3 separate regions of the Homo sapiens genome follow, and all the other regions are linked to region 3. Evidence: fine-mapped expression QTL. A gene starts in region 3. Each other region holds a variant in brackets. All regions are shown on one strand. Distances are between the middles of the regions.

Region 1 (8,164 bases), 170 kb after region 3:
TAGTTTAGCCTGTGCGGTCTAACCCTGGCCAATAGGGGAATGACACAGCCGCAGGGGCCACGTGCGTCAGGGATAAGAACCCTTTCTCCTCCCTTGTCCAAGTGTGCGCCCACCATTGCTCCATCTGTAAGGGCGCACCCTTCTACATAGAAGTATCTTGCCTTGGGGCTGGGTGCAATGGCTCACACCTGTAATCCCAGCACTTTGGGAGGCCAAGGCAGGCGGATCATGAGGTCAGGAGATTGAGACCATCCTGGCTAACACAGTGAAACCCCGCCTCTACTAAAAATAAAAAAAATTAGCCGGGCGTGGTGGCAGGCACCTGTAGTCCCAGCTACTTGGGAGGCTGAGGCAGGAGAATGGTGTGAACCTGGGAGGCAGAGCTTGCAGTGAGCCGAGATCAGTCACTGCACTCCAGCCTGGGTGACAGAGTGAGACTCCGTCTCAAAGAGTACAATGGGGACAGTAAATTTAGATAGCCATTACCAATTTTAGTTAGTCAACAACAATAATTAGAAGTACCTTGCCTTGCTGAGAATTAAAAAGAAAATCTTAATATTCGAGTGGTATTTCTTTTGTGGCACCGAAACTTTATATATAACACGATGCTTGTCTGTTAGAAGGAAAACTAACAAACAGAAAGGACATCCACACCAAAAACCCATCTGTACGTCACCATCATCAAAGACCAAAAGTAGACAAAAACCACAAAGATGGGGAAAAAATAGAGCAGAAAAACTGGAAACTCTAAAAAGCAGAGCACCTCTCCTCCTCCAAAGGAACGCAGTTCCTCACCAGCAACAGAACAAAGCTGGACGGAGAATGACTTTGACGAGTTGAGAGAAGAAGGCTTCAGACGATCAAACTACTCTGAGCTACAGGAGGAAATTCAAACCAATGGCAAAGAAGTTAAAAACTTTGAAAAAAAATTAGACGAATGGCTACCTAGAATATCCAATGCAGAGAAGTCCTTAAAGGAGCTGATGGAGCTGAAAGCCAAGGCTCAAGAACTACGTGAAGAATGCAGAAGCCTCAGGAGCCGATGCGATCAACTGGAAGAAAGGGTATCAGTGATGGAAGACGAAATGAATGAAATGAAGTGAGAAGGGAAGTTTAGAGAAAAAAGAATAAAAAGAAACGAACAAAGCCTCCAAGAAATATGGGACTATGTGAAAAGACCAAATCTACGTCTGATTGGTGTACCTGAAAGTGACGGGAAGAATGGCACCAAGTTGGAAAACACTCTGCAGGATATTATCCAGGAGAACTTCCCCAATCTAGCAAGGCAGGCCAACATTCAGATTCAGGAGATACAGAGAATGCCACAAAGATAGTCCTCGAGAAGAGCAACTCCAAGACACATAATTGTCGGATTCACCAAAGTTGAAATGAAGGAAAAAATGTTAAGGGCAGCCAGAGAGAAAAGTCGGGTTACCCACAAAGGGAAGCTCATCAGACTAACAGCTGATCTCTCGGCAGAAACTCTACCAGCCAGAAGAGAGTGGGGGCCGATATTCAACATTCTTAAAGAAAAGAATTTTCAACCCGGAATTTCATATCCAGCCAAACTAAGCTTCATAAGTGAAGGAGAAATAAAATACTTTACAGACAAGCAAATGCTGACAGATTTTGTCACCAACCAGGCCTGGCCTAAAAGAGCTCCTGAAGGAAGCACCAAACATGGAAAGGAACAACTGGTACCAGCCACTGCAAAAACATACCAAAATGTAAAGACCATCAAGGCTAGGAAGAAACTGCATCAACTAACGAGCAAAATCACCAGCTAACATCATAATGACAGGACCAAATTCACACATAACAATATTAACTTTAAATGTAAATGGGCTAAATGCTCCAATTAAAAGACACAGACTGACAAATTGGATAAGGAGTCAAGACCCATCAGTGTGCTGTATTCAGGAAACCCATCTCACATGCAGAGACACACATAGGCTCAAAATAAAGGGATGGAGGAAGATCTACCAAGCAAATGGAAAACAAAAAAAGGCAGGGGTTGCAATCCTAGTCTCTGATAAAACAGACTTTCAACCAAGAAAGATCAAAAGAGACAAAGAAGGCCATTATATAATGGTAAAGGGATCAATTCAACAAGAAGAGCTAACTATCCTAAATATATACGCACCCAATACAGGAGCACCTAGATTCATAAAGCAAGTCCTTAGTGACCTACAAAGAGACTTACACTCCCACACAATAACAATGGGAGACTTTAACACCCCATTGTCAACATTAGACAGATCAATGAGACAGAAAGTTAACAAGGATACCCAGGAATTGAACTCAGCTCTGCACCAAGCAGATCTAACAGACATCTACAGAACTCTCTACCCCAAATCAACAGAATATACATTTTTTTCAGCACCACACCACACCTATTCCAAAATTGACCACATACTTGGAAGTAAAACACTCCTCAGCAAACGTAAAAGAACAGAAATTATAACAAACTGTCTCTCAGACCACAGTGCAATCAAACTAGAACTCAGGATTAAGAAACTCACTCAAAACCGCTCAACTACATGGAAACTGAACAACCTGCTCCTGAATGACTACTGGGTATATAACGAAATGAAGGCAGAAATAAAGATGTTCTTTGAAACCAACAAAAACAAAGACACAACATACCAGAATCTCTGGGACACATTCAAAGCAGTGTGTAGAGGGAAATTTATAGCACTAAATGCCCACAAGAGAAAGCAGGAAAGATCCAAAATTGACACCCTAACGTCACAATTAAAAGAACTAGGAAAGCAAGAGCAAACACATTCAAAAGCTAGCAGAAGGCAAGAAATAACTAAAATCAGAGCAGAAATGAAGGAAATAGAAACACAAAAAACCCTTCAAAAAAATCAATGAATCCAGGAGCTGGTTTTTTGAAAAGATCAACAAAATTGATAGACCGCTAGCAAGACTAATAAAGAAGAAAAGAGAGAAGAATCAAATAGACGCAATAAAAAATGATAAAGGGGGTATCACCACCGATCCCACAGAAATACAAACTACCATCAGAGAATACTACAAACACCTCTACGCAAATAAACTAGAAAATCTAGAAGAAATGGATAAATTCCTGGACACATACACCCTCCCAAGACTAAACCAGGAAGAAGTTGAATCTATGAATAGACCAATAACAGGCTCTGAAATTGTGGCAATAATCAATTGCTTACCAACCAAAAAAAGTCCAGGTCCAGATGAATTCACAGCCGAATTCTACCAGAGGTACAAGGAGGAGCTGGTACCATTCCTTCTGAAACTATTCCAATCAATAGAAAAAGAGAGAATCCTCCCTAACTCATTTTATGAGGCCAGCATCATCCTGATACCAAAGCCTGACAGAGACACAACCAAAAAAGAGAATTTTAGACCAATATCCTTGATGAACATTGATGCAAAAATCCTCAATAAAATACTGGCAAACTGAATCCAGCAGCACAACAAAAAGCTTATCCACCATGATCAACTGGGCTTCATCCCTGGGATGCAAGGCTGGTTCAACATATGCAAATCAATGAATGTAATCCAGCATATAAACAGAACCAAAGACAAAAACCACATGATTATCTCAATACATGCAGAAAAGGCCTTTGACAAAATTCAACAACCTTCATGCTAAAAACTCTCAATAAATTAGGTATTGATAGGACCTATCTCAAAATAATAAGAGCTATCTATGACACACTCACAGCCAATATCATACTGAATGGGCAAAAACTGGAAGCATTCCCTTTGAAAACTGGTACAAGACAGGGATGCCCTCTCTCACCACTCCTATTCAACATAGTGTTGGAAGTTCTGGCCAGGGCAATGAGGCAGGAGAAGGAAATAAAGGGTATTCAATTAGGAAAAGAGGAAGTCAAATTGTCCCTGTTTGCAGATGACATGATTGTACCTCTAGAAAACCCCATTGTCTCAGCCCAAAACCTCCTTAAACTGATAAGGAACTTCAGCAAAGTCTCAGGATACAAAATCAATGTACAAAAATCACAAGCATTCTTATACACCAATAACAGACAAACAGAGAGCCAAATCATGAGTGAACTCCCATTCACAATTGCTTCAAAGAGAATAAAATACCTAGGAATCCAACTTACAAGGGATGTGAAGGACCTCTTCAAGGAGAACTACAAACCACTGCTCAATGAACAGATACAAACAAATGGAAGAACATTCCATGCTCATGGGTAGGAAGAATCAATATCGTGAAAATGGCCATACTGCCCAAGGTAATTTATAGATTCAATGCCATCCCCATCAAGCTACCAATGACTTTCTTCACAGATTGGAAAAAACTACTTTAAAGTTCATATGGAACCAAAAAAGAGCCCACATCACCAAGTCAATCCTAAGCCAAAAGAACAAAGCTGGAGGCATCACACTACCTGACTTCAAACTATACTACAAGGCTACAGTAACCAAAACAGCATGGTACTGGTACCAAAACAGAGATATAGATCAATGGAACAGAAAAGAGCCCTCAGAAATAATGCCGCATATCTACAACCATCTGATCTTTGACAAACCTGAGAAAAACAAGCAATGGGGAAAGGATTCCCTATTTAATAAATGGTGCTGGGAAAACTGGCTAGCCATATGTAGAAAGCTGAAACTGGATCCCTTCCTTACACCTCATACAAAAATTAATTCAAGATGGATTAAAGACTTACATGTTAGACCTAAAACCATAAAAATCCTAGAAGAAAACCTAGGCATTACCATTCAGGACATAGGCA[T/AT]GGGCAAGGACTTCAATTACCAAAAGCAATGGCAACAAAAGCCAAAATTGACAAATGGGATCTAATTAAACTAAAGAGCTTCTGCACAGCAAAAGAAAGTACCATCAGAGTGAACAGGCAACCTACAGAATGCGAGAAAATTTTTGCAACCTACTCATCTGACAAAGGGCTAATATCCAGAATCTACAATGAACTCAAACAAATTTACAAGAAAAAAACAAACAACCCCATCAAAAAGTGGGTGAACGACATGAACAGACACTTCTCAAAAGAAGACATTTATGCAGCCAAAAATCACATGAAAAAATGCTCATCATCACTGGCCATCAGAGAAATGCAAATCAAAACCACAATGAGATACCATCTCACACCAGTTAGAATGGCGATCATTAAAAAGTCAGGAAACAACAGGTGCTGGAGAGGATGTGGAGAAATAGGAACACTTTTACACTGTTGGTGGGACTGTAAACTAGTTCAACCATTGTGGAAGTCAGTGTGGTGATTCCTCAGGGATCTAGAACTAGAAATACCATTTGACCCAGCCATCCCATTACTGGGTATATACCCAAAGGATTATAAATCATGCTGCTATAAAGACACATGCACACATATGTTTATAGCAGCACTATTCACAATAGCAAAGACTTGGAACCAACCTAAATGTCCAACAACGATAGACTGGATTAAGAAAATGTGGCACATATACACCATGGAATACTATGCAGCCATAAAAAATGATGAGTTCATGTCCTTTGTAGGGACATGGATGAAACTGGAAACCATCATTCTCAGCAAACTATCGCAAGGACAAAAAACCAAACGCTGCATGTTCTCACTCATAGGTGGGAATTGAACAGTGAGAACACATGGACACAGGAAGGGGAACATCACACTCCGGAGACTGTTGTGGGGTTGGGGGAGCGGGGGAGGGATAGCATTAGCAGATATACCTAATGCTAAATGACGAGTTAATGGGTACAGCACACCAACATGGCACATGTATACATATGTAACAAACCTGCACATTGTGCACATGTACCCTAAAACTTAAAGTATAATAATAATAAAATTAAAAAAAAAAATAACAGTACCCTTGTACACTGTTGGTGGAATGTAGATCACTACAGCCATTACGGAAAACAGCATGGAGGTTTCCAAAAAAAACTAAAAATAGAATGACCATACAATTCAGCAATCCCACTTCCAGGTGTATATACATATATTCAAAGGAAATAAAATCACCATCTTGAAGGGATATCTACACTCCCGTGTTCACTGCAGCATTATTCACAATAGCCAAGAAATGGGAACAACCTAAGTGTCTGCTGACATGAACTGGTAAAGAAAATGCATATGGTACACATACCATGGACCAATAACCCGCCTGAGAAGAGAAGGAAGTCCTGTCATTTGCAACAACATAGGTGAATGTGGAGGATGTTATGGTAAGTGAAAGAAGCCAGGCACAGAAAGACAAATACTGCCTGATCTCATATTGTCAGAGGTGTGTGAACCAGGGCAACTCCATCTTAAATAGGAGCTGGGTAAAATAAGGCTAAAGCCTACTGGGTTGCATTCCCAGACGGTGAGGCATTCTAACTCACAGGATGAGATAGGAGGTCAGCACAAAATACAGGTCATAAAGACCTTGCTGATAAAACAGGCTAATAAAAAAGAGCCAGCCAAAACCCACCAAAACCAAGATGGCGACGACAATGACCTCTCGTCACCCTCACTGCTACACTCCCACCAGCGCCATGACAGTTTATAGATGCCATGGCAAGGTCAGAAAGTTATCCTATATGGTCTAAAAGGGGAGGCAAGAATAATCCACCCCTTATTTAGCATATCATCAAGAAATAACCACAAAATGGGCAACCAGCAGCCCTCAGGGCTGCTCTATGGAGTCGTCGTTCTTTTATTCCTTTACTTTCTCAATAAACTTGCTTTCACTTTGCACTGTGGACTGGCCGTGAATTCTTTCTTGCTTGAGATCCAACAAACCTCTCTTGAGGTCTGGATCAGGACCCCTTTCCTGTAACAATATGTGGTATCTAAAGATGTCAAACCCATCCAGAGTAGAAGGGTGGATACCAGAGTCAGGGCGTGGGGGCAGTGAGGTGACAGGTGTTGGTCAAAGGGTACAAACTTTCTGTGGTAAGTACTGAGGCAGGAGAACAGGGTCTGGAGACAGGGACAACAGCAAGGTCTGAGAAAACAGCAAGGTCTGGGCGCAGGAAATCCAAGGCCAATTCGAGCTGCCTTCCCAAAGCTGGGTCAAAAGGAAAACACCTGGGTCTGGGGGCAGGGAACCTGAGGCCAATTAACACACACTTCTGAAAGCGGAACCAAACAGAAAACCCCATCTCCCCAAGCCAAGCAGCAAAAGATCAAAGGCTACTCTCCCTATAACGTCTTAGATGGAAAGGGAGAGTGCCCTGGATTAGCTGCAGCCAACACAGGGACCATCCCTTCATCTGCGTAGAGCGCCAATTCACCTCAGCCTTTAATTAGCCAGGGACCAAATCCTTCATCCAGATAAGGGGTAGCAGATAAGAACCTCAAACAGGGAACTTAACACCCTTGAGCCCTTGCTGGGTCTGCTCCCACCCTGCAGAGCTTTCTGTCTTGAATAAATCTCTGCTTTCGCTGCTTCGCTCCCGCGTTTCATTCCTCTGCTACTCTGTGTGTTTTGGTCAATTCTTTGTTCAAAATGCCAAGGACCTGAACAACTCATAGTGAAGACCCTCCATGAGTAACAGTAGGTTCTAGAGGCCTAATGGACAACACAGATACTACAGTTACTAATAACATATATTTGCAGTTTGCTCAGAGAGTAGATTGTGAGTATTCTCACCACACACACGAAAACAGTAAATGTGAGCTGGTGGGTATGTCAACAAGCTTGACTGTGGCAAACATTTCACAATGAATACCTATAGCAAATCATCACGTTGTACATCTTGAATATTTGAAAAATACATGGAATGAGGAGCTCCCTGTGCTCTCAGATATAATTATGCTCAGAGGAAACTGCTGAAGAGTCACAGGTAACTTACCACAGACGGAGAATCCCTTACTCCCTGGAGAGACCGGGGACAGCGATGGGACTGAGCAGGAGCTGGGTCACAAAATACCTATCCAGGCTCACAGGCTGGAAAGCAGCAGCAGTCCCCCATCCTGTGTGTGTGGTGGTGAGGGTGGGAGTGACGCTGTCAGGTCCTGAGCTGAGCGGTGGCCCACCAAGCCCCCTAGGCCTTCCCTGGGAGGGTCCTGCGCCTCAGGCCTCAGGGCACAGGGCGTGGCGGAGAGAATGGAAGGGGAAATAGACCAGGAGCTGAAAACTGTGTCAAATGAACCATGAGCTCTGGATAAGAAATCCATACTCAGAAAATTCCTACATATAAAAA
Region 2 (8,187 bases), 120 kb after region 3:
AGGAATAGATACGAGATCCTTGTTGTACCTACCCAGCTTTTTATAGATGAATCACCTGTTTGTAGTTCTTGTAATAGTCAATGAAAGCTAGTTAAATTATAGATTACCATTTGTGTTTCTTTGGCCCTTTTAAGTATTATTTTTCATTTTGTTACATAATTAGAACTTTTTTTAAGATAGAGAATTTTAACAGTTCAAATTTGTTTAGTTGATGTTGCATGTTGTTACTAGTCAAATTTTATCTCACCCACCTAATTTGCATTATGTTCATTTTATTCCTCATTTTCTTTTTTTAGGACCCAATGTTGTCTTCCAGTTGTGAAAGCACCCCAGAGACCCACTATCCAAGTTTCACTCTAGCGTGGAGGCAGGGCAGGCAGCCCTGATCAAATATCTCCTACACAATTCGTTTACTTCGTTTGAATGTTAGAGCCACTTGTGATTATTTTTTTGTGTTTCTAACTTACAGTTTAAATTTATTTGTAAAAAGTTAAAGGATAGTGGGTCTTTGTGTGGCTTTCCCTGCTGTTCACTCTGGCATCTTTAGCATTTTTCTTCTTTTTTAATTTGATAATTGTAGGTCATTAGCATGCATATTGAGTTTGCCCTTATGTGGTGGGAGTTCAAACACACAAAGACCCACTATTTGCACAAACTATTCTTACTGGTTTGGAATAGGCTGCCATGCTTTTTTAATGTTATTGCAACATGTGTATTCATTTACAGAATTCAGATAAAATTTGCTTATGTTCTGCTATTATGTTTGATCTAATCCTAATCACAGTGAGCTCTTAATTAGCTCAATATGTGGTTTGCCCTCAAGTGTGCACTGTTTATTACTTTGTAATATGCCACTATGAGTACTGACATTTAGATTTGTTTAAAGGCCAAGAACTGGAAACAGCCATGCCCTGTTTTCTGTGTATTTGGGATGGGAATAACAACATTTTGGGGGAGCTTTTTAAATCTCAGAGAAGAGGAAAGTGGCCTGCTCTGGCAGGTATGTGCAGTGTTTCATTTGTTCCAGTCCCAAGAATGAGCACTGTCCTATGGTAGTTCGCTTAGGATCTTTATGTGCTCTGGGCTAATGAAGGTACTGCATCATGTGCTGCAGCGTGTGTATTCTTTTTCGATGACCTATAAAGGGATTATTTTTGAGGAATGAAAGGCTCCCATCATTGACTGTGAGATGGGAAAAACCTTTCCTAGCTTAGAGCATTTATATCTTAATCCATTTTAAAGTCAGAGTTCATTGTTACCTGTTTTAATCAGGTGACTACATGTCCCAGTATACAAAGGGGCACTGGTTGACATTCTTCTTAATGTATTTAGTAAATATCATAAGAAATCCTTTAAGAGTTTAAATGTCCCCAAAACAGACATGTGGGCTCTAGTCAAGAATGAATTAGAGTGAAGGAAAGCTGTGTAACACCTGGCATTCCTCTGTGTTCATGGAGCTTCTTTGAGGCTCTAAGATTGATTTTACCATCAGACTTCTCTAATACCTGTTCTTCAACCATATTGGCTACTTTGACATAAGAATTTACTTCTTTTCCTGGAATGGAAAACACTTTAAAAAATAATAACAAACATTATTATAAACTAATATATGTGAGAGTACTTAGTTGATACAAAAAGGAGTTTTAGTAGACAGTATTATACTATATTTGAAAATCAAGGAGAATTTTATGCAACTTAAAATGTTTACAAACTGCAGTGCAATCTACTGTTTGTGAATGTCAAAGTATCAGGAAAAGTGTATATACAATCACAGAGTCATATTTCCTCACAAAGTTATTTACAAAGAGTGAAATATGTTTTTGTACCTCTCAGTTTCAGTTAGAGGCATATTTTGTGCAATATTTATGTTAATGTGCCTATACATTATGAATGAATTATTTCAGTCATACATTGCCTAAATCATAACTTTATGATGCTTGGGAAAGAATCAACAGTTAAAACTTCATAAAGTTATAATGTCTGTGTTCCAAAATACATCACATTATTAGGATGTAGGGAGATAAGTATGTGTGCTCCCTAGGGTGGCAATTTCTAGTTACTAGACCACCTCTATTTTTAGCATTTGGCATCCTCATGATACTTTTATAAATATGACATTAATAGGAAAGCAATAATTTCATTTTACAGATAGAATAACAGATTTGCCTGCATTCACTGAAAGAGTGCAAAGACTGGGTCCTTGTGAATTCAACTGACTCTCCCAAATTGTATTAATTACCTGTTCTTGCCTTTTATTTTCTGAACTTGCTGCTTTTGCATTCTTTTGAGTTCAAAGACAGTTACTTTAAATCCATTTTTAAACCCTCGGGGTAGAAATCATACCACTGTTAATCAGCCACATTATTTGGTCTAAGGTTTTTTCTTTATAATTCTGAAACTGAGTTTATCTAATACATTGATGAATTATTTCAAACGTATTTTTATAGTTCAAATCACTTCACTTTTACACTGATAAATATAAATTACTGGGAATGACCTTCAGACAGCGTTTAGCATCTGTAACCAACCTGAAAATAATATGTTCATCAGGTACCTATGGATTAAATCATATACTGGCGTATTTAAGCTGAATGTCAGTCTGGAAAATAAATTTACTATATTAACTGAAATACCACTCTTTGTGTAGGTATTTTGTCATGTATTTAAGAAAAAGATAAAAAGAATGGAAATCATATGACATAATAACTTAAGTCTTTCTTAAAAGTGCATGCTGTCTTTTGCAATACCTCATTCAGCCAAGTATTTGTTCTCTTCCTCATTCAGTATAAGTCAGCTTTCAATTTGCTTAGAAGGCAACATTAGAAGGTTAGAGTTCATCAGAAACATAGAATTTTAAAATGTGAGTTCAACTGAATAAATTTGAATTTCTGTAGGAGGTAAAGAATCAAAATACCTGTTTAAAGATTGCAATTGCAATGTATAATAATCACTTTTAAATTATTTGATTAAACCTTTTAGGTTTTCCAGAAATGAAAAAAATCAGTTCTAAAACCAAAGCTGATTTTTAGAAAATTTGAGAATGTAAATCAGCCCTATCCATAATATAGTTTCTCTAAAACTTTATCTTAAAGAGTCATTTTAAAATAATATAACTATTAAAAATGTAACTGATATTTAAATGTTTTGAAATAAAACATTTTAAAATATAAATACTGTAGTTTAAAAGAAAGAAACTGGGGGAAAGAAAAGTAGAGAAAGAAATACCAATTCCAGTCCAAAGCTTTATTTGCCAGGTTTTCTTAGAATGACTTTTACCAGTTTATGAATTCTTGTAAACAGAATCTATAATGGAAATACTGAAAGACTTTTGCCTAAAGTGGCATTATTGAATGCTGCTGTGATGCTACTGTAATGTAATAAATTATTAAATTGTTGCAAAGTGCTGTTTTTGCCTTAAAATTTTATTTTGTGTGTCTTGAAAATTATAGTATTAAAGGTATTGAGATTGTGCAAATGCTGGGCACGCTTGGCATGAGATAATCTGTTTTTATTTTTACAAAATTGTAATATAACTATGCAAGTGTGTTTATTAAAAGAACACAAACTATATTAGTTGTATTGTGTATTTCTTTTGAAACATTCTTTAAAACTTACTTTTAATTGTTTTTATTTAGTCATGATTAAATGTCTTTGGAATGTCTCTTTTTCCTTAATGTAGTCTCATGAGAACAGGCCAGCAAATTGTTTTATATCATAGGGGGCAAAATAAATGTATAAGTGGTCAAGATGAAGATAATTTGATTGGAGATAATCATATGTATCTCAAAAGTGAAATAAAGTTTGATTTTAATACATTGTTGCTCACAAAAGTAAGGAAAACATAATCTAGGGTAATAGACTTGTGTTTTTATAAGTTTTACTGCAACTTTTTTCTAAAAAGATTGGATGGAACTTACAAATTAATACTCATTGCAAATGTAGAGTAAGACTTTTAGTACAAAATAAGAGTTTATGTAAAAGAAACAGCAGTGAATGCTTGGAGGTATCAAAGTTAAGCAGTGTTAAAGTTAATCATGTTGGTGGTCGTATAAGCCCTTGGGTGGAAAGAAAGATATGGATCTAAATCCAGTCCATCTGTCAACATCTAGCACAAACAACCTCTTTCCAAAAAGCCTTTCCTCATCTCCGGAAACTTATTCAACTAACATGTATGAAGTGTTTACATAAGGCTAAGCAGGTGCTGGGGATACAAAACTGAGTGTCAAGTGGCCATTGTCTTAGGTGGTACATAGTTCTTTGAGGGGATTAGGCCCATATGCAGATAATTATAAAACAGCATATTCAGCACAGTGATAGATATTTGCCAGGCACTTAAGGACTACAGAGAAGGAATACCAAATTCAGCCATAGATTGGTGAACGAGAGACTTGCTGGAGGAAGCAACTGCCAGGTCCATAAGATAAGTAGCAATAAGCCAGATTTGGTGGGTAGGATGGTGGAGTGTATGATAAAGACAAGAAATGGCATGGTGGGGAAGTGTAATTATAAGCATTTCAGTATCGTCAGAATGGAAATACA[G/A]AGCCAGGAACTATAAAAGTTGAGGCTTGAGAGGCAGGCCAAGGGCTAAGTCAGAAATTCTCTAGCTCAGCTGTATGTTGGAATCACTTGGGAAACTTGAAAAATCTATAGTTTCCAGGGTCCTAATTTAAATGGATTGAAGTTCGGCCTGATCGTGGGGATCTTTCAAAGCCTCCCATATGATTCTGATATGCACCCAAGGTGGAGCAAAAAATGATGAAACGGAGTTCTGAGGGAAAATTGGCAGGAACTGGAGATAGATGGAATATGAGTGTCGGTGGAAAAGTCAGTTATTTCCAGATTTGTGTCTTGAGGGACAGGATGGGATAATGGTGCCACCAACTGCAGTGAAGAATTAGAGTTGGGGGAAGAAGAGGAGTTTGGAGCACCTATGGGATGTCCACATAGAGTTGTCAAGCAGGTGGTCAGATAAGATAGACAACATCAGATGTACACCACCTGGTGGAATGACATACATATTGGTAGTTGTTGAACCAGTGAAAGTAGATGAGATTACTTGGGAAGAAGATCAGACCTCCTAGAAGATCAGCAGTTAAGGGTTGGATAGTGAAAGGAACTCACAAAGATGGGAAACAGGTTATATGAGAAAGAGATTATTTTGCTATTTTCATGATTTTTAAAAAATAATGAAATTTTGGCTCTGCAACCATCTCTCACACCAGTAAAAATAAAAGAGGAAAAGTGCTCTTTTTTGAGGACTTCTTAGTTTAGATACTTTTCTAAGGTCCTTGAATGTATTACCTCTTCATTGTTTTCTTTTTTGAGATACAGAAATTAAAACAGATTAGATAATTTGTCCAAGTGGAACCTGCTAGTAAGCGGTAGAGGTGGTCCATGGTCTGGCTCCCAAGTCCATGCTGTTAGCCTCTACACTAGTGTGCTGATATTGCCACCATCTCCTAATAATGAACTTCGGCACTACAACTGTTACTCATACCAGTGAAACAAAAACAGGATGGTGGCTCATGCCTGTAATCCCAGCACTTTTGAGAGGCCAAGGTGGGTGATTACCTGAGCCTAGGAGTTTGAGGCCAGCCTGAGCAACTTGGTGAAACCTGTCTCTACAAAAAAAAATAAAAAATAAAAGATAGATAGATAGATAGATAGCTGGGAGTGGTGCTGCTGCACGCCTGTAGTCCTAGCTACTCAGGAGGCTGAGGCAGGCAGTTCAATTGAGCCTGGGAGATCGAGGCTGCAGTGAGCTGAGATCACACCACTGCACTCCAGCCTGAGTGACAGAATGAGACCCTATGTCCAAAAAAAAAAAAAGAAAAAAAAACACAGGAAAAATCAGAGATTGCACAGGCTTTTCTCTATGTAAAAAGGACACACAGAGAAGAGTCAAGGAGTCAAAGACTGAACATAATAAACAAGGACAAGACTCTATGACAATAGTATCCAGAAGGATAAAGCTGAATGTAATCACTTTTTTTGGTAACAGCTTCATTGAGATACAATTCACTTGCCATGCAATTGGTGGTTTTTAGTGTATTAACAAAGTTGTCCAACCATTTCCACAGTCACTTATAAGACATTTTTATCACCTCAAAATGAATCTCTGTACAATTTAGCTATCACCCCCATTTCCCTAAGCCCCCCTCCAGCCTTCAGCCCTGAGCAGGCACTAATCTTTTGTCTCCATGTTTGTCTATTCTGAACATTTCATATGTATGGAATCATAAAATGTGTAGCATTTTGTGATTGGCTTATTTCACTTAGCATAATGTTTTCAAGGTTCATCCATGTAGTAGCATGTAGCTGTACATCATTCCTTTTTATGGCCAAATTAACATCCCATTGTGTGGATATGCCACGTTTTGTTCATTCATTATTTAGTGGACATTTGGGTTGTTTCAACCATTTGGCTATTGTGAATAATACTGCTGTGAACATTTGTCTACAAGTTTTTGTGTGAACATATGTCCATGTTTCTTTTGGATATATATCTAGGAGTAGAATTCCCAGGTCAAATGGCAAATCTATGTTTAATTTGTTGAGGACCTGCCTCACTGGCTGCACCATTTTCTATTTCCGCCAGCAGTGTACAGGGCTTTCTGTTACTCCACATCCTCACCGGCACTTGTTATTATCTGACTTTTATTATAGCCATCCAGTGGACATAAAGTGACATCTCACTGTGGTTTTGATTTGCATTTCCCTGATGACTAATGATATTGGGCATCTTTTCATGTGCTTGTTGGCCATTTGTATACCTCCTTTGGAGATATGTCTATTCAGATCCTTTGCCCGTTTTAAAATTATTTGTCTTCATAATCACTTTTTTAAAAGACTTCATTTTTTAGAGTAGTTTTAGGTTCACAGCAAAATTGAGAGGAAGACACAGAGATATCCCATATGTCCCTTGCCCCGACACAGGCATAGCCTCCCCCATTAACAACAACCCCCACCAGAGCAGTACATTTGTTACAATTGATGCACCTACATCATGTCATTATCAAAGTCTGTAGTTTACATTAGGGTTCAGTCTTGGTGCTGTGCATTCTGTGGGATTGTACAAATGGGTAATGACATACAGCTACCATCACAGTATCATACAGAGTATTTTCACTACCCTAAAAATCTTCTGTGCTCTACCTGTTCAGCTCTCCCTCCCTCCCATCCCCTGGCAACCACTGATCTTTTTACTGTCTCCATAGTTTTGCCCTTCCCAGAATATCATATGATTGGAATCACACAGTACATAGCCTTTTCAGATTGGCTTCTTTTACTTAGTAATAGGCATGTAAGTTTCCTCCATATCTTTTCATGGCTTGATCCTTTCGTTTTAGTGCTAAATAATATTCCGTTGTCTGGGTATACCACAGTTATCCACTCACTGAAAGATATTGTGATTCCTTCCAAGTTTTGGCAATTCTGAATGAAGCTGTTACAAATATCTGTGTGCAGGCTTTTTTGTGGACATAAGTTTTCATTTCCTTTGAATCAATACCAAGGTGTGTGATTGCTGCTGGATCATATGGTTTAAGAGTATGTTTAGTTTGTAAATGGCAAACTGTCTTCCAAAGTGGCTGTACCATTTTGCATTCCCTCCAGCAATGAATGAAAGTTCCTGTTGTTCCACATCCTTGCCAGCATTTGGTGGTGTCAGTGTTACAGATTCTGGCCATTCTAACAGGTGTGTAGTGGTATCTCATTTTTGTTTTAATTTGCATTTTCCCAACAACGTATGATGCAAAGCATCTTTTTATATGCTTATTTGCCATCTGCATATCTTTTTCCATGAGGCATCTGTTAAGGTCTTTGGCCCATTTTTTTATTTGTTTTCTTATTGTTGAACTGTTAAAAGAGTCCTTTCCATATTTTGAAAAATAGTTCTTTATCAGATACGTCTTTTGCAAATTTTTTTTCAGTCTGTGCCTTGTCTTCTCATTCTCTTGACCACATCTTTTGCAGAATGAAAGTGTTTACATTTAATGAAGTCCAGCTTATCAACTCTTTCTTTCATGGATTGTGTCTTTGGTATCATATCTAAAGAGTCATCACTAAACCCAAGGTTATCTAGATTTTCGCTTACACTATTTTCTGGGAGCTTTATAGTTTTGTGTTTCAGATTTAGGTTTGTGATGCATTTTGAGTTGATTTTTGCGAACAGTAGAGACCTGTGTC
Region 3 (8,187 bases):
TAAAAAACTGTTGCTATCTAAACCCAGAAGAGCATGGCCTATGTTTCTCTATTTAAATGAGGAAAAGAAAATCACAACTAGGCATAGGAAAATTCTCCAAACACAAGGCAAAAGCCTGATTTTACCTCTCTTTCTTCATACCAACCAAAGTGAGACAATCCCAAACAGCACTTTACCCTAATTCCCAGGATTGTTACAAGGATTAAATGAAATAACAAAAGTACTCTGCCAAGTGCAAAATGCTACATTAATATTAGTTACGTTATTATAAGAAGGGAACTGGTATCACTCCAGGTTTGTGCTGCAGACAGCAACGATGAAATAAGCAGACAGCTGGGCATATCTGCCAGACAGGAAACATTTCTGACTCTTGAACACAGATTGGATTCCCTTTCGCTGAGCTACACCTGCCAGACTGGAAGCCCCTGGTGCTTTGGTAATGAATGAACACGTCCTGTCCAGGGACTTTAGGGCCTCGCCCAGTCTGGCCTTTGACTCCACCCTGCAGTGCTGGCCTAGGCCCAAGTCTCGGCTAACTTCCCCCTTCAGTTTGCCTGGTACTGCCTTTCCGGTACCATCAGGCCTCAAGCCAGAGTCTCAAGTTATGCACAACATTAGTGGCCCAATAATGAGAACACTCCTTCCTTCCATGCCAGGGCTGGGAATTTCCCTTCTCTCCTCTTTCCCCTGAAGTCACTCCTATTTCCACTTCTCTGCTTTTCTTCTGCCCCGGACTCCAGAAGGAGATCTGTAAGGTCAAGAAGCTAAGAAAAGATCCAAGGACCAAATTTGTCCCATTGACCATTCTTGTGAATTGAGTCTCCACTGCTCCTCACCAGTGCTCATTCCTTGCGAAGTCCTTGTTTCTAGTGGCCAGAACATGGTAGGGTCTTTTAAAAATTATTAATTTAAAAAATATATAACTCATACCTACTGCTGTTCACGTGGAACTCTTCTCCACTTCTGCCTTCAAAATTCCCATCTGAATATTTGCTACGAATGTCAAGATCTGTGCCTGCATTGGCTCCACCCAGGCCTGTGCCCCAGGCTTCAAGTCTCAGGGCAGAGCATCTGCAGGGATGGGAACTTGGGGTTGGGGGTTGAAAAATGGGAAATGATGCCATCTGCTCAATCCCTTTCCTCTCCCTTCCTCTGCTCCTCCAGTGCCATCCATTTTCAGGGTTAGTTTGTTTGGCAGGTGGGAAATATTATCATAGGAAACTCGGATCCTCAGGAAAGAATGAAGAGTGCCCAAAATAATAAATATCTGGATAAATCAAGACTATTTTTGTTGCCTGTAACCTATTAATTTCTTTATAAATTATTTATTTAAAACTTGGCTCATGCCTGTAATCCTAGCACTTTGGGAGGCTGAGGTGGGTGGATCACCTGAGGTCAGGAGTTCAAGACCAGCCTGGCCAATATAGTGAGACCTTGTCTCTACTAAAAATACAAAAAATTAGCTGGGCTTGGTGGTGGGAGCCTGTAATCCCAGCTACTCAGGAGGATGAGGCAGGAGAATCGCTTGAACCTGGGAGGCGGAGGTTGCAGAGAGCTGAGATCGCGCCATTGCACTCCAGCCTAGGCAACAAGAGTGAAACTCCATCCTAAAAAAAACAAAACAAAAACAAATAAAAAACCCCCAAAGTTACAGCATTGTTTTGAAGGTAAAACTATAACATGAAATATGAGCTCCAGGTTCTCAGTCTTTCTACTCTATATGATAATGGTATTTATCTTATGGGATGCCTGGACTCTAGAACTGTTGCTTCTACCTATTCTATACTCTTCTTACACTGCAGGTTTGTTTTGGGGGTAAACATGGTAGAAATGGGGTACAGGATGGAATCTTTGAAAACTAACTTAAGGGGAGATTGATAGAACATAAGATACATATGGTTGAGGAGAAGGATCAATAATACATGGAAAAGAAAACAGATAGAGACTAAACGCTCCCAGGGTAAAAGCTAGGTCACCAGGAACAAGTCTAAGAATCTTGCCTAGACTGTGGCAGAACTAGAGGAAGAGAAATGTAACATGGTAGGACTTAGCTCCTCCAGGTATTTGATTTCCAGCTGGTGCCAGAAGTAAAGAAAAGATGCTGGGATTTGGAGAATACTAAGGAGGAAATGTATAGACACACTTCCAAGGCTGCCCTATGAGAAGAGGAAGTCAAGGAACTGGGATGGCGGCTGCATCATCTAAATGAATCATGAACACTGAAAGACACTAAGGATGATGAAGGTCCTGGGCGGAGAGTACTGGCTGCTCCATGTGCAGAAATTCTTGAGGAATATATTGAGTGCCCTGGAAGATGGTAAATGATAAGGATGAGGATAGAGGATGGGTGTAGCTAGTGTTATAAGCCTCATAGGAGAAGGGGCTTTTGCATGTGAGTGGAAAACTAGGATCTGGATGCAGTCGAGGAGCAAGGAAAATGTTTCTTCAGCCACTTCCAAGGTCTGTGCTTCCCTCCTGTATTCCATTCTTTATCTTGTTGAATAGAACTACCATTACCCAAAAACCCAAGAACCCTTTACTCCTTCTCATTCCTTATATCCAACCACCAAATGCTTAATATTGCCCAAATTTATCCCTGAATCACACAGGGTGGGAGGTATGTGTGAGAGAGAAGATAGATAACTGGAGGTGCTTGCATTTTGGGCTGTGATAGAGTAGGACAGGATGGACAAACTGGCCTCAAAGTTCTGAAGGGAACTCTGGGATACAGTTGTTTTAGTACTTGGGATACTGTAGGCATGCATTCAGGACCCTGATTTCCAGCAGAGGTTGTTAGTTTTTTGGTTTATTTTAGGGGGGCTTTAAATTTTTTTTTATTCCTTTATAAGCATCTCTTTCTACAAATTCCATTTTTGTCCTGCCAAGGATTTGGCACCTCCTTTAGAAGGAAAGGAGACTCAGGGTAAATTGCACCAGGTCTAGAACCCGAAAACACAAATGACATTGGTCAAAGGATGGGAGAAAAATGAAGACTAGCTATGTGCCTAACAGGAATAAAAAATAGGTTTTACCTCTCAGACCAACTCTCTGGAGCACTATGTTGTGAAGGATTCTGGGGCTTTGACTCTCAAATATGGGCTCCAAAAGAGCATATCAGTTAACTGGTGAAGGGTGCAATGGGAATGAGGCCACGTGCTCAAGATTGCTATCCTTGGCCTGGGTGGTTTGTTTGCAGATAAGGACAGATTGGCTGGTCCCCAGCAAGTGAGGGGCCTCCTAGACTGATAAAAGAGTCAGGCTTCTCTGTGTCACTGAAGCTCAGGACCTGTCTGTCAGGTCTTGGTCAGGTTCTAATCGAAGAGTTAGGAAAAACACTGAGTGTGAGAGCGGGAAAAGCCTGTTTATCATCATCGATGTTTGGTAAATTCCTCCTAAGCTGGCTGGCCAGTTCAGATAGGCCTGGGTTTGGAGCCATCTCACCTTCACCTGCCTCAACAGGTAAGGAATGAAAGGATGCCAGGGGTTATTTGATCTACACAGATCAAATCAAGGGATATGAGTTTTGGACCCCAGACCAGCCCTCACCCTGCTTCTAAAAGCCAAAATAAATCTTGGGTCTTGGCCGGGCGTGGTGGCTCACGCCAATCCCAGCACTTTGGGAGGATGAGGCGGGTGGATCACCTGAGGTCAGGAGTTTGAGACCAGCCTGGCCAACATGGTGAAACCAGTGTCTACTAAAAATACAAAAATTAGCCGGGCGTGGTGGCAAGTGCCTGTAATCCCAGGTACTTGGAAGGCTGAGGCAGGAGAATTGCTTGAACCTGGGAGGCGGAGGTTGCAGTGAGCACAGATCTCACAGTTGCGCCACTGCACTCCAGCCTGGGCAACGGAGTGAGAGTCTGTCTCAGGAAAAAAAAAAAAAAAAAAAAAAAAAAAAAAAGAAATCTTGGGTCTTATATCCAAAAATCTTGAGTCTTACATTTGGTTACTTTTTTTTTTTTGAGACAGAGTTTCGCTCTTGTCGCCCAGGCTGGAGTACAGTGGTGCAATCTCTGCTCACTGCAACCTCCGCCTCCCAGGTTCAAGCGATTCTCCTGCCTCAGCCTTCCGAGTAGCTGGGACTACAGGCGCCCGCCACCACGCCCAGCTAATTTTTGTATTGTTAGAAGAGGCGGGGTTTCACCATGTTGGCCAGGCTGGTCTCCAACTCCTGACCTCAGATGATCCACCTGCCTCGGCCTCCCAAAGTGCCGGGGTTACAAGCGTGAGCCACTGTGCCAGGCCGACATTTGGTTACGTTCATTAGGAAACACTAACTCCTCCCTCACCCCAATCAAAAGAAAGCCTTTCCCCTTGAAGAAGCTTCTTGTCAAGGGCAAACCTTTGGGGTTTTGGGATACGGTGGCGGCTTGAGTTGAAGTCTGGTCTTTTGTGAGGAGACCAGGAACCGGGAGGGGAGAAAAGAGACAAATTCTGAGTAGGAGCTTCGCCTGTCCCTTGGCGAGGGGTGGGGAGGAAAGTTTAGCTTCGTCGTGCTATGCTCTATGGGGACAGAGTCTTCCTACTGCTCGGCGGAGTGTGACTAGCGTAGAGGGTGCTCCTCGTGGGCGCTCCGCGTGTGTTATGGAGGAGGGCGAGGAATGGTGAATGGATGACCGAGGGTATGGTTAAGTCCTCCAGGTCCCTGAGAAGGGTTCAAGAGGCCTGTAACAGACCCATGGGCAAGGGTGGGATCAACCTCCTTCCCACCTTCCACCCCCCAATTCCCAGAGAATTCGTTCCCCCAGATCAGTGGAGAAAACTTCGGCGAGTGAGAAGGTTCCAGGGAGAACCCCGTGGTGGGTGCAACAGGGATGTGGCAGGCACTGCTTGGGACTTTCCAAAACCCCGGCGTCTGCCGTGGCAGGAAAAGCACCACCCAAGCTCAGCATGTTACCTCGGGGAGGAGGAGCCAGGTGGGTCTGTGCAACTCCAGGAAGGGCTGCCAGGTCTGGGGCTTCGGGGCCTCCCCGAGGGCAGAGAGGAGCGCTTCGGACCCGACCGACTCGGAGCAGACCTTCAGGGTTCAATGCCCCGGAACTCCTGGGGCGAGGAGCCACGCCCGGGCAGTTTCGGGCTCCGGAGGGTGGGGAGTCGGTGCCCGGCAGCGGGCGGGCCGTCAGCTGCCCGGCCCGGCGCCTACCTCCCCGCCCCCCGGCTTCCTGCGGAGGCCGCGGCCGCCATGTTGTTGTGGGGCTGAGGCGGCGCCGGCGGAGCCCTGAGCGGCTGTGACAGGCTACGCAACAGGTTCGCGGGCGGCGGCCTGACGACCAAGCCAGCTGCAGTGGCGGCGACGGCGGCAGAGCAGGGTCTCCCCGCGCCTGCCCGCGCCCAGGCTGCCGGTGCTGAGGGACGCGGAGTCGCGCTGTGACGAGCGGGAGGCGCGGCGAGGGCGCCAGGTGGGTGAAGCCGCTAGCGGGGCTGCAGCAAGGCGCGGGGCAGGTGCGGGCGCCGCGCCCGCTGCCCGGAGGCTCTGCGGGTCGGGCTGAGGCGGCTGTGCGCTCCGCACGATGGGGACGGGTCCTCGGGAGTACGGGCGGCCCCCGAGCTAGGCCCCTGGCGGGCTCGGCCGTGCGGGGCGGAAACCTCCGGCCCCGGGTTCCTTCCTCTGCTGCCGGGCCGGGACAGACGCCGAGGGGGCCTGGGCTGGGCTGCCCCTTCCTTGCGGCCGAGCCCGGGTCCCTGGCCGCGGCCTCGTCTGGCAGGTGGCGGACGCCGGCGAGGGTCGGGGGTGGCGTGGCCCCCTCGCTTTCGGGGTGTGAGCAGAAGAGAGCTCTGGGGGCACCCGCACGCCTCCTCGGGGACCCATTTTATTTTCGCGGAGTTGGTTTTCCTTCCTGGCAAGGGTTGGTGCCGAATGTCAGGTGAGCCGCATCCCGGTGCGTCAAAGTAGCCCGAGTCACGAGAGGACAGTGGGCGGATGCTTGGCGTCTACCGCTCGCGTTCCTCCGGAGTTGGAAATGTTAAATTTACCTTCAGCGTTATTGACTTCCAGAATATACAGGAAGCACCGAGAGATGTAATCTCTCAGGCCAGATAAAGTTTATTTGTGTATTTATTTATTTATTTTTAAAGACGTCTGCATATGCATAGTGAGTGGGTAAACCGAGGCTGAAACTGCAGATGGCTTTGTATTCTATAGAAAGATGCTCCGTTTGGATTTATTAATTATGCGCCTTGTCGCTCTAGAATTACCAATGGCAAGTGTGCTTTATTTGAAACTTGTGTTAATACTGAAATAGGAATATTTTTTGATGGAGCCAACCCCTTTACGATAGGAATTAAGGTTAGCATAGAAATGACTTGCTTTGCTCCATGCTTCTAGTTTGTCTCACTAGTGTTTGCTTGCTTACTCAGAAATAGGCAAGGTGTGACTTGAAATTTTACGTTGTTAGTGAGCTCAGTTTAGGTAGCATAGCTCTTGTAGTTTAAAGCTTCTTAAGCGTTTCGAAAAATTGCCTCTCTCCCTGTGCTGGTTTGCTATATTGTTAATCAGTGATAAAACCTAAAAGCTACCTAGAAACATCGCATAAAACATTTACGCGAATTAATAATGACGTCCTTCCAAATTTAAAGATACTGACAACTCTGATGTGTTTTCCTTTAGCTTTTTTTGGCTGTGCCTGTGACTCTCTTGTAATTTCAAAAGTAAATAAAGTGGATGTATTTTATGTTTTTGAAAACGTGGAAAAAATGTGCATTGCTGCTATTTTGATGTAATATTAATAAGCAGTTGAAAAGCTTGCATTTTTTCACCCTTCCATGCATTGATAACTATTCCCTGTGCCCACCTTTGTAATGAAAGGTAAACTCGTCCAAGAAAACTTGACCTGTACAGAATTACTAAGCAGGGAGTTACCATTGTTCGGTACATCTCAAGGCTAAAATCTTGATCTCTCCTGAATATGAGGAGGTGTGTTAGGCATGTTTTGGGGATTGGATTAATAGTGTTAAAAAATTTGTATTTTCACAAAAATAGCATGTACCCATCACCCAAACTCAGCAGCTTTCAAGAAGCTTTTCTTTTTTTCTTTCTTATTTTAAAAAATCCTTTAACCTTATGTAGTTAGTATATCTTTTTTAAAAAGTAGAAAATCATGTAACCTTAGGATTTTTAGTTTTAATGTAGAGTTTCACAAATTTCCATCTTTAGTAAGACAAAAGGGTCACATATTGGCTGTCTCCTTCAACTATACTTTCTTCAGTATAAAATATGTTTACCATGGTTGTCATTTATCGAGCACGTAACTGCATGTTAGACTCTATGCTAAGTGTTTTACATAATCATTTAAAGCTCACTAAGGCCCTAGGAGTAATTATTATCTTCCCATCAAAAAGGTAAGTGAAATGTTAACCTGAAGTTTGACTACTTTAGGTCTCTGAGCTAGTAAGTACAATAGCCAGGTTTCAAACCAAGATCCTTTTAACTGCAGCACCTGTGCCTTATCTGGTAGAGTCATCTTGGTTCATACATTTAAAAAAGAGTTATCTATGTGCCGGGTGCCCTGGCTCATGCCTGTAATCCCAGCACTTTGGGAGGCCGAGGAGGGCGGATCACCAGGTCAGGAGTTTGAGACTGACCAATAAGGTGAAATCCTGTCTCTACTAAAAAATACAAAAAATTAGCCTGGCATGGTGGCGTGCGCCTGTAGTCCCAGGTACTCAGGAGGCTGAGGCAGGAGAATCGTTGAACCCGGGAGGCGGAGGTTGCAGTGAACCGAGATCGCACCACTGCACTCCAGCCTAGGCGACAGAGTGAGACTCCGTCTCAAACAAAAAAAAGAAAAAAAAAGTTATATGGGCATTCAGTAAAAAATATGTGTTTAGTGAATGAGTGAAAGTACATATTAGTCCATTAAGTAGCATTTTTACATATTGTATTTACTTGTAAAACATTTATATTAACAAGTTCCAGAAATGATTCAGAATAAACGAGTTACATTACCAAAAATGTGATATATTTATTACCATCTAACGGTGCATTTTCTTTTTCTTTTTTTGGATTCAAGTTTTTTTAGTACCTTTTTTATTTATGGAAAAAATTTGTGAAAAAACTGTTTTTGAAGAAAGGCAGACTTTCTTGTGTGCCGATTTTTTTTTATTTCTTACAAAAAAAACAGGATATATGTGCAGAACGTACAGGTTTGTTACATAGGTATACGTGCACCGTGGTGGTTTGCTGCACCT

Alleles and levels. Alleles are on the strand shown, and positions count from the first base shown. SD is a standard deviation of normalised expression in the study named. Not every link is listed here.
For the expression in stomach of the gene that starts at base 5,167 in region 3, A is the high allele of the variant in region 2 and G is the other (moderate effect, 0.52 SD a copy in GTEx).

What was found. PIP is the estimated chance that this variant, and not a neighbour inherited with it, causes the effect.
Region 1: its variant is the best candidate, but not a certain one, in a credible set for the expression of ITSN2 in whole blood (TOPMed, PIP 0.79).
Region 2: its variant is the best candidate, but not a certain one, in a credible set for the expression of ITSN2 in stomach (GTEx, PIP 0.58).

Annotation. Positions count from the first base shown.
Region 1 is chr2:24,191,085-24,199,248 of GRCh38, reverse strand. It overlaps FAM228A (family with sequence similarity 228 member A), which reads right to left. Exons shown (of 6, transcript NM_001040710.3): 6 at 7,551-8,164. Among named protein-coding and RNA genes, the nearest start is that of FAM228A, 20 kb to the right of the region's middle. The variant T/AT (reference allele first, on the strand shown) is at 4,755.
Region 2 is chr2:24,234,316-24,242,502 of GRCh38, reverse strand. All of the region lies in intron 29 of ITSN2 (intersectin 2), which reads left to right. Among named protein-coding and RNA genes, the nearest start is that of FAM228A, 63 kb to the right of the region's middle. The variant G/A (reference allele first, on the strand shown) is at 4,540.
Region 3 is chr2:24,357,516-24,365,702 of GRCh38, reverse strand. ITSN2 (intersectin 2) reads left to right here and starts at 5,167. Exons shown (of 40, transcript NM_006277.3): 1 at 5,167-5,399. RefSeq lists an enhancer at 4,734-4,883 and silencers at 4,984-5,283, 5,294-5,343, 5,354-5,753.